2 separate regions of the Homo sapiens genome follow, and region 2 is linked to region 1. The links come from fine-mapping of genetic effects on gene expression. A gene starts in region 1. The other region holds a variant in brackets. All regions are shown on one strand. Distances are between the middles of the regions.

Region 1 (4,532 bases):
ATATAAAAATATATAAAATGTACATACCATATATTAATATAAAAAGAACTCTTGATTGATAGGTTCTTCATTCAGTACTTCAGATGCTGCTCCACCATCTTCTGGTTTGCATTTTTCTGATGTGAAATCTGCTGTCATTCTTATCTTTGTTCCTCTGTACAGTAATGTCTTTTTTTTTCTCTCTGATAGCTTTTAAGATTTTCTCTTTATCAGTGGCTTTAGGCATTTTGATTGTGATGTTTCTTGGTATGGTTTTCTTCATGTTTCTACTGAGTTTGTTGAGCTTTTTGGGTTTATAAGTTTATAGTTTTGGTCAAATTTGGAAAGTTTTCATCAATTATTCTTTCAAATGCTTTTTTCTGTCCTCCCTAATCTATTCTCACCTCATATTTCTCATTTTCTTCAGGGACTACAATTGCATGTATACTAGGCTCACTGATACTCTACTTTTACTTTCAGTATTTTTCTTCCCTTAGTGTTTCATTTTGGATAGTTTCTATCACAATGCTTTCAAGTTTTTTTTTGTTTGTTTGTTTTTGTTTTTGAGACAGAGTCTCGCTCTGTCACCCAAGCTGGAGTGCAGTGGCACAATCTTGGCTCACTGCAAGCTCTGCCTCCTGGGTTCACGCCATTCTCCTGCCTCAGCCTCCCGTCAGGTTTTTTACTGTTTCTTTTTTAGTAATGTCTAACCTATTAATCCTGTGTGTGTGTGTGTGTGTGTGTGTGTGTGTGTGTGTGTGTGTGTCTGTGTGTGTGTGTTAGGGTGTTAAAAATCTTAGATGTGGTTTTATTATCTCCTAGATGTTTGGTTTGTGTCTTTTTTTTTTTTAAAGATTTTTCACATCTCTACTTCCCATGCTCAGTTTATTTTTTCTACTTGTTGAAAACATTGAATACAGTCATAATTACTTTCTTAATGTCCTTGTTCTCTTATTTTATCATCTCTGTCATTTCTGGGATGATTTCAATTGGTTGATTTTTTTTTCTCATTTCCTGCTTCTTTTCGCATGCCTGATAATTCTGTTTGGATTCCAGATGTTGCAAATTTTACCTTGTTAGGTGTTGGTTATTTTTAATTTCCTGTAAATATTCTTGTGCTTTGCTCTGGGACACTTTGTTCTCAAAAACGGTTTAATCCTTTGGTGGCTGGCTTTTAAGATTTCTAAGATAGAATCAGAGTAGCTTTTACATTAGAGCTAATTTTGCCCCACTACTGAAGCAAAACCATTTGAGTTGTGAATTATGAGGTTTTCCAGTCGGGGTGCCAGGATCAGGCACTATTTCTGGTCCTGTATAATCACTGGGTATCTTTCTACTCTGCCTTGTGGGAGCAGAATTAATTTCCTACCCTGTGCAAACTTTAGTAATTGCTCTCTCTTTTCTTCATACATGATTATTTCCTGCCCTTAGGTAGCTTCCTCACACACATGCTCTAATCAGCGGAAGACTGGAGTGAGATCTGTTGTAGATCTCCACAGCTCCTTCTTTCTCTGTGTAGCTTTCTCCTTTCTGATATACAACTCACAGTTCCAGCTGCTTTGGCCTCCCTGCTCTCCCAGTTCTATCTCTTCAACTCAGGGAGTCTGCCTAGCTCTTTTTGGCTGCTCCCTCTAGTTAGTAAATCAAGGCAATCATAGGGCTCACCTCATTTGTTTTCCCTCCTCAAGGACCACTGTCCAGCACAACGTTTAAAAGCCATTGTCTTATAAATGCCTGTTTGTTTTTGTTTTTAGTTGTTTTAGGCAGGAGAGTAAATTCAGTCCTGTTGCTCCATCTTAGCTGGCTAGACTGGATTGCTATAAATTTTAAACTATCTAAATAGTTGCATATATTTAGGGGGTACAAATCGATGTTATGACTTATGAATACAATGTGGAATAACTGAATCAAGCTAATTGACATATCCACCTCAAATACTTCTCAGTTTTCATGGTGAGAACTTTTGAAATGTACTCTTAGCGATTTTGAACTGTATAATACATTATTATTTACTATATTCACCATGCTGTGTAACATATAGTCCGAAGGGGGAAAAAAGCCCTTATTTCTCCTAACTGAGGCTTTTTATACTACAAGCCTTATTTGCTTCTTTTCATATCTCATTTTCCTCCTTAAAGGAAAAGGCACTCAGCCACTTTGGTAGAAATTACACAACATGGCCATTTGCAATCCCTGCCTCTCCCATTCGTAGTAAATCCTACATAGTCTTACAGATCTCATAAAAAGTCAGACCACACACATAACCTGATAGCCCACGCGCACATTCCCAACAGAGCCTGGAAGAGGGACAAGCTCCCGGATAAGCTGAATTTACACAAAGCAGAATGAGGTACCCACACACACTCACACACGCATGGCCTAGGCAGGGTAACCATCTGTCCAGGCGCTCACACACTATCTTTAGCCACACACAGGCACGCACACTCGAGTACACACATTACACCCTCGGATCCGCTCACGCTCCCTGAGGCTCGCAGGCCGGGCCCCGCCCCCGGCGCTGGCTAGCCGGCGGCCCCGCGTCAATGCCACGCGCCGGTTGCGTCATCAGGGTGCGCCACTGCAGCTGGCATTGGCCGGGACTGGAAGTGCGGGCTTCTGCAGCAGCCGAAGCTGGAGCTGCTAGGGTGCGAACTGCCAGGGCAGGTGTGGGCTGCGGGAGGCTACTCGGGCCGGGAGCGCCGGGACAAGTGCATGGAGGTGGTGCGACTCCTGCAAGTTGCTGGGGCAGTCGTGTCCCCTATTCCCTGACACCCGAGCTCCGGTCTTCTCCCTGAGAAATCGGTCGGGCTCGTGCAGGGGTGGGGATCAGGATTCATCTCTCCTGGGGAGACTGCGCTGGGGCATGGGTTCCCCTGGGTTGGAAGGAGTCCTTATGGACTCAGTCCCCTAAGTATCTGCACGCGCGGAGGCGCCGCCAGCCAGCCCGCCTGGGTCCCTAGGGAACATTGAGGCAGTAAGGGGTACTCTGAGAGCAGCCGGTATGCTGGAGATAATTAATGACAGCGTTACCATTGATTGGACTGAGCGCTCACTGTGTGTTACACACTGTGGTAGACCCTTTGTTTATATTATTCCGTCCTCTCAACAATCCAGGAGGTTAAGAGCTATCATTCTGCCCATTTTCCAGATGGGAAAACTAAGGCATAGAAGTTAACCAACTTATGGTAATAAAAAATCACACAGATGGTAAGCAGTGGAAGATTTAAACCTCACAGCTGGTCTTCCAGCCTCTGTCCTTTTCAGATCCTCTAGTCAGCTTCTCTCAGCGCATGCTGCTGGCTGGTGCCTCTGGGATATTGCTTCTTTATTACTCCTTGACCTAGAGCGAACTGTGCGGAGGGAGGAAGTGCAAAACGTGGACCTCCTGTTGGCACAAACGAGCCTCTTTGTCCTCTCCTCATCCTCTCTTCACTTCATTTTCTCAGGCAGCAGCGGCTCCCCTGTTGTATGGACATTCTGCACCCGAAACTGATAGCTGAGTCCTGAAGTTTTATGTTATGAAACAGAAGAACTTTCATCCCAGGTGCATTGGTTTATTCTCTCCCCTAGCCTGTTATGTTAGATTGTACTTATGTTAAATTTTTAAGGACATAGGTGGTTATGCCGAGAATAACAGTGACTGTAGCCAACCCATGTGGGGATTGTAAAGAAATTGGAATATGCCTTCCAAAGGAACACTGTTAATCTAGACATGACCTTTCAGGATTTTAAAGGAATAATTTTAGGCCAGGTGAGAAACAGCCAAAAGCAAAAATAATGTGAGGCTAGAGATTATGTTTGAAAGTTTTTATATTTTGGATTAATATCTATTCTAGGAGTTTACTCTTAGTGAATCTTTTTCCTTAGGGTAGAAAAAAGCTTATCGAAAAGGATGAAAACTTATACATCAGATATTTCAAAATAGTGTGCTTTTCTTTCAGAGCTTTGTAGCTTTGTATTACCTTTGTATTAAAAGTGAAAATGTTCTTTTAGGACATCACAAGAAAATTAAGATCTTAATTTAAGTACGGGAACTTAAGGGGTGCCCTAATTGCCTTAATTAAATAAACATGCCTTCCTTCTGCCAGGAACTATTCAATTAACAAAAATGAAATAAGAATAAGCTCTTATTTTCATTTGCAAATGACTATTCATAGCTATTTTGTTTGGATACAATTCATAGCTATTTTGTTTGGATACTATTTTGTTTGCATACTATGTTTTGTTTGGATACTATTCATAGCTATTTTGTGTGGATACAAAGGATACAATGTTGTATCCTTATATATTCAGGAAGTCTTAGAATACAAATGCTGATTTTTTTTTTTTCTAGTCAGGGAAGCCTAACTGTGTTCATATAAACACATCAAAGTCAGTTTTTACCTTGTGACTCAACATGGTAGAAGTCTGTCAGTTCATGTGATATCCCATTGTGGAGCAAAGTAATGTAGAAATCAGAATTTTGAGTTCTAGTATTTACTCTCTCGATTCCTTGTTAATTTAAATGGTACCTATTTTTTATAGCACATGATTTGGGAATTACACTTTGTGAC
Region 2 (4,000 bases), 22 kb after region 1:
GGTTATGCATATTGTATGTAAGTGAACCATATGAAAGAATTTTGCTGTTTGAATTTTTCGGAATTCAAATTGAATTCAAATTGAATTTTAACTTAGAGAAATTGAATATGAAGCCTTTCCTTTAATATGTGGAAGTGTTGAATTTTCAGAAATGTTTTAAAATAAGGCATCTTGAATTATGTATTCTTTCTGCCAGTGGTTTTGGAAGTGGTGTATCAACAGACTATTTAGTCATAACTAAATAACATGTTTTGGCCAGGCCATAATGTAGTATATTATGGAGGAAAATAAGCCATAGAAATAATCTGTTTGTGGTTTAAATTTAAAATATATAGTAATTTAAAGTATCTAATTCATTTAAAGATCAGTTCCACATGGTTTGCCTTGTAAAAGAGTGCGGTTGTGTGTTGATTTTTGAAACACTTTTTAGACCCAGTGATGCTGCTGATGAAGGTAGAGACACGTCCATTAATGAGTCCAGAAATGCAACAGATGAATCCCTACGAAGGAGGTTGATTGCAAATCTGGCTGAGCATATTCTATTCAGTAAGTAGAATACCAGACTCTTTAATTCTACAATTTAGATTCATCATGGTATGGTGCAAACTATACAGATTTTGGAATCTGCTGAGGTTAGTTTCCACTTCTATTAATTCACAGGTGGTGATAGGTAAGTTATTAGAAAGAAGGTGATACCGTGAGGATTTGAGATAATTGGAGTTAAACATCTTATACAGTGTCTGGTAATTAGTAGGTGTTCATGTGGTAGTTGTTGTACTTTTTAAAAATAGTTATTATTAAAATGATTTGTTGCCTCTGTTGCTCATTAATGTGTTTTATTTGAACTACTTGAACTAATTTGTGGTACAACGTCTAGATTTATAGTTGCATGTCCATTTCTCCTTTGACCCCATGAGTTTTTGTAATGCAGCAAATATGAGTGGCCTTGTATAAAGCTTTGCCTTAGCCGTGGAGAATACAAAATGAATAATTAATGGTTCTGAACTCAATGAGCTTATGTTCTTGTCAGTGGGATGGTTATACACAAATAATTAAAGTGAACCTAGAGAGGAGAGGAGTGTGAGTTCACTGCAGGACCAGTCTTCTTTAAGTTCCAAGCTGTACAATTGTGTACTGTTGTGGAGGCTGCTTTAAAATCCCAAGGCAGCACAGTGGTTCTTTGGTGCTCAGCCTAGTTGTGATTTCTTTCTTGCTGCTCTCTGGGCCAGGACCCTGATGATACTCTCCGCACCCCCTGCCAATGCTACTGGGGAGGTCTTCCTCCCTCACCTTGCTCCTCCCATTCTGGAGGCCCCTATTCCTGCTTGACTTTGGGTCAGAGGATTCTTTCTCAAGCACATTTGATTATGTCTCTATCCTGCTTAAAATCTGGATACAAAAAATAATACCTTATTGTTAAAAAGTTTGAAAATAAAGATGAAATAGACAGCAAAAACCCATTACCCAAATAACCAGTGGTGTTGCTGTGTAGTCTCTAAAAATATTTTTTACAGTTTTGTATTGTGCAGCTTTCCATTTATAACACAATATTCATATTTAAAAATTCTTTATAAATATTTTTAATAGCTATACATATAGTACTGAGTACTTTTTTTTAACACTGGAGACGACTTCAGTTACCAGTGGTGAATGAAGTATTCTTAAATTTATTGTTATCTTAGAAAACTCACAAATGTTATCGTGATTTAAGATTATTCCATGGGTGTTCTCAGATTTGATTTATATAATTATAATTTTATGCAAATTCAGTGTAGGGGTGTGCACTGTAGTCATTCTCAAATGTGTGTCTGTGCCCTTCCTTCTTACCTCTGGGTCAGGTTGAAAGAGGAAATACAAATATGCTGAGCACCCATTACTGTGGCTCCTGTGCCGGGCCAGTCATTTTATTCTCATGTGGTCTAATGAGCTAGGTAGGATTTTCATTTTATCAGCAAGGAAGGTGAGGCCAGGAATTTAAGTAATTTGCCCCAAGTCATGAAGTTAGTTAGTGAGTAAATTAGGATTTGAGCCCAGATTTTTCTGACTTCAAGTCAGCTGTTATCCTTCTACTACACCTTCGTTTTAATATGGTGAATACCAGCAAGAAGAGTGAAGTAGAGTTGTAGTTATAATAGACTGTAGGTGGGAGCAAGTAAAGGAATATGGAAATGGGAGATCCCGTAGAACTAAAACAGCCTTGTACTTTGGGTCTTGATATTTCAATAAAAGTGTCTCTTCGTCATTCAGTAACTAAATTCCACTGGCCTGGATTGAAGTTGGACCTGTCTTACTTAGCCTGTTGTATGATGAATAGTGATCTCTAATGAGGTTCCATTATACCAGAACACTGTAGTATTATAACTTCCTTTTGGTAAATCACACTTATGGGAAAT[G/A]TGATAGAAGACTTTCACAGTTTTAAATACTCCTGTTTAAAATTTAGGTATTTCAAAAAAGTTCAGCTATGTTTGTAAAAAGTGCAACTAAAAAAAGCTTTGTGTTTGCCTTCCAGCTGCTAGCAAGTCCTGTGCCATTATGTCCACACACATTGTGGCTTGCCTGCTCCTCTACAGACACAGGCAGGTATGTCTGCAATGTCACCTGCAGTTAAGTAGGAAGCAGGAGAATGTTTTGTCAGCTGCTCAGATACATACTCAGGGGCAGATTTGGCCCACTCATGGCTAGTACTATGAGGTAAACAGTAAAATAAGCTGAGGACCCTGCCCAAAGGAGCTTATCAACTTGGTGGAGGAAGAATCTACATTTAAAAACAAAACAAAACAGACTGCTTAATATATATAGTACTAAGCTATTGCTTGATTAATACTGTTAATGTAAATAAGGTCTAACTCATTAACATGTGGTATATATTCTGAAAGCAAATGCTTTCCAAATGAATTGACTGGCATTTTAGAACCCACCCTTTATCCTCCCAAAATACATTTGTCTGAGCTTTATGATGGAAGAGACCACACCAGTCTTGTTCAGTCATATTCTCAACACCAAACAGTGCCAATATATATAGGCACCAAATAAATATTTGCCAGATAAATATTTAAAATGAAGGAAATTTTGCTAAAAAATAAGCACTCCTTACTTGCAGATGGCTTTTTTCCTCCCCCTTGTGATCTTATGTGTGCATATCATGTGTCATGGCTAGAGTGTTCACTAGCATGTGTAATACCTTGACATTCCTGGAGGACCAGCTTTTTAAGTAGTTTTCTGACTCGCTCTGCATTGGTGTTCTGGCCCTACTTCTCTATGTGCTAGCAGTGAGCTGCAGGAAAGCCAAGGCAAGAAGAAAGTCTTGGAATGTTGGCCTCTCAGCTTTTTGGAAAGTAGGTTTTCCACCATCATGATACCGTTTCCATCTTTCTTTAGGGAATTGATCTCTCCACATTGGTCGAAGACTTCTTTGTGATGAAAGAGGAAGTCCTGGCTCGTGATTTTGACCTGGGGTTCTCAGGAAATTCAGAAGATGTAGTAATGCATGCCATACAGCTGCTGGGAAATTGTGTCACAATCACCCACACTAGCAGGAACGATGAGTTTTTTATCACCCCCAGCACAACTGTCCCATCAGTCTTCGAACTCAACTTCTACAGCAATGGGGTACTTCATGTCTTTATCATGGAGGCCATCATAGGTATGTCAGACCTTGAAATATTTTCAGTAATTTTCATGGAAAATAAAAAGGCCTAAAACACATAGTGGTATCTGCTTTAATTTGGGTGATAGCCCCTTGCTTGAGGGAATGTGGCTATAATTTTAGTTTTCAAACGAAAATGTAATCTCCTGTTATATCACTGTTTACAATGAGTAGTTACTGAATTACCGTTTGTATAGCATTACCCTTATTTTTCAGGAGAGGTAGAGTGTCTTGCTATCCAGGAGCTGAAAATCTAACTGAGATGAGACATACACAGAGCAGCAAAGTGAGTGGAGGGCCTCATTTGTGATTAAGAGAAAAGAGAGGAAGGAGAGAAGAGGGGGCTTATGTCTT

What was found. PIP is the estimated chance that this variant, and not a neighbour inherited with it, causes the effect.
Region 2: its variant is the best candidate, but not a certain one, in a credible set for the expression of GPAM in whole blood (TOPMed, PIP 0.84).

Annotation. Positions count from the first base shown.
Region 1 is chr10:112,181,785-112,186,316 of GRCh38, reverse strand. GPAM (glycerol-3-phosphate acyltransferase, mitochondrial) reads left to right here and starts at 2,552. Exons shown (of 22, transcript NM_001244949.2): 1 at 2,552-2,624; 2 at 3,426-3,523; 3 at 4,504-4,532. RefSeq lists a silencer at 2,405-2,634.
Region 2 is chr10:112,160,247-112,164,246 of GRCh38, reverse strand. GPAM (glycerol-3-phosphate acyltransferase, mitochondrial) reads left to right here. Exons shown (of 22, transcript NM_001244949.2): 14 at 431-546; 15 at 2,510-2,580; 16 at 3,379-3,643. Among named protein-coding and RNA genes, the nearest start is that of GPAM, 22 kb to the left of the region's middle. The variant G/A (reference allele first, on the strand shown) is at 2,394.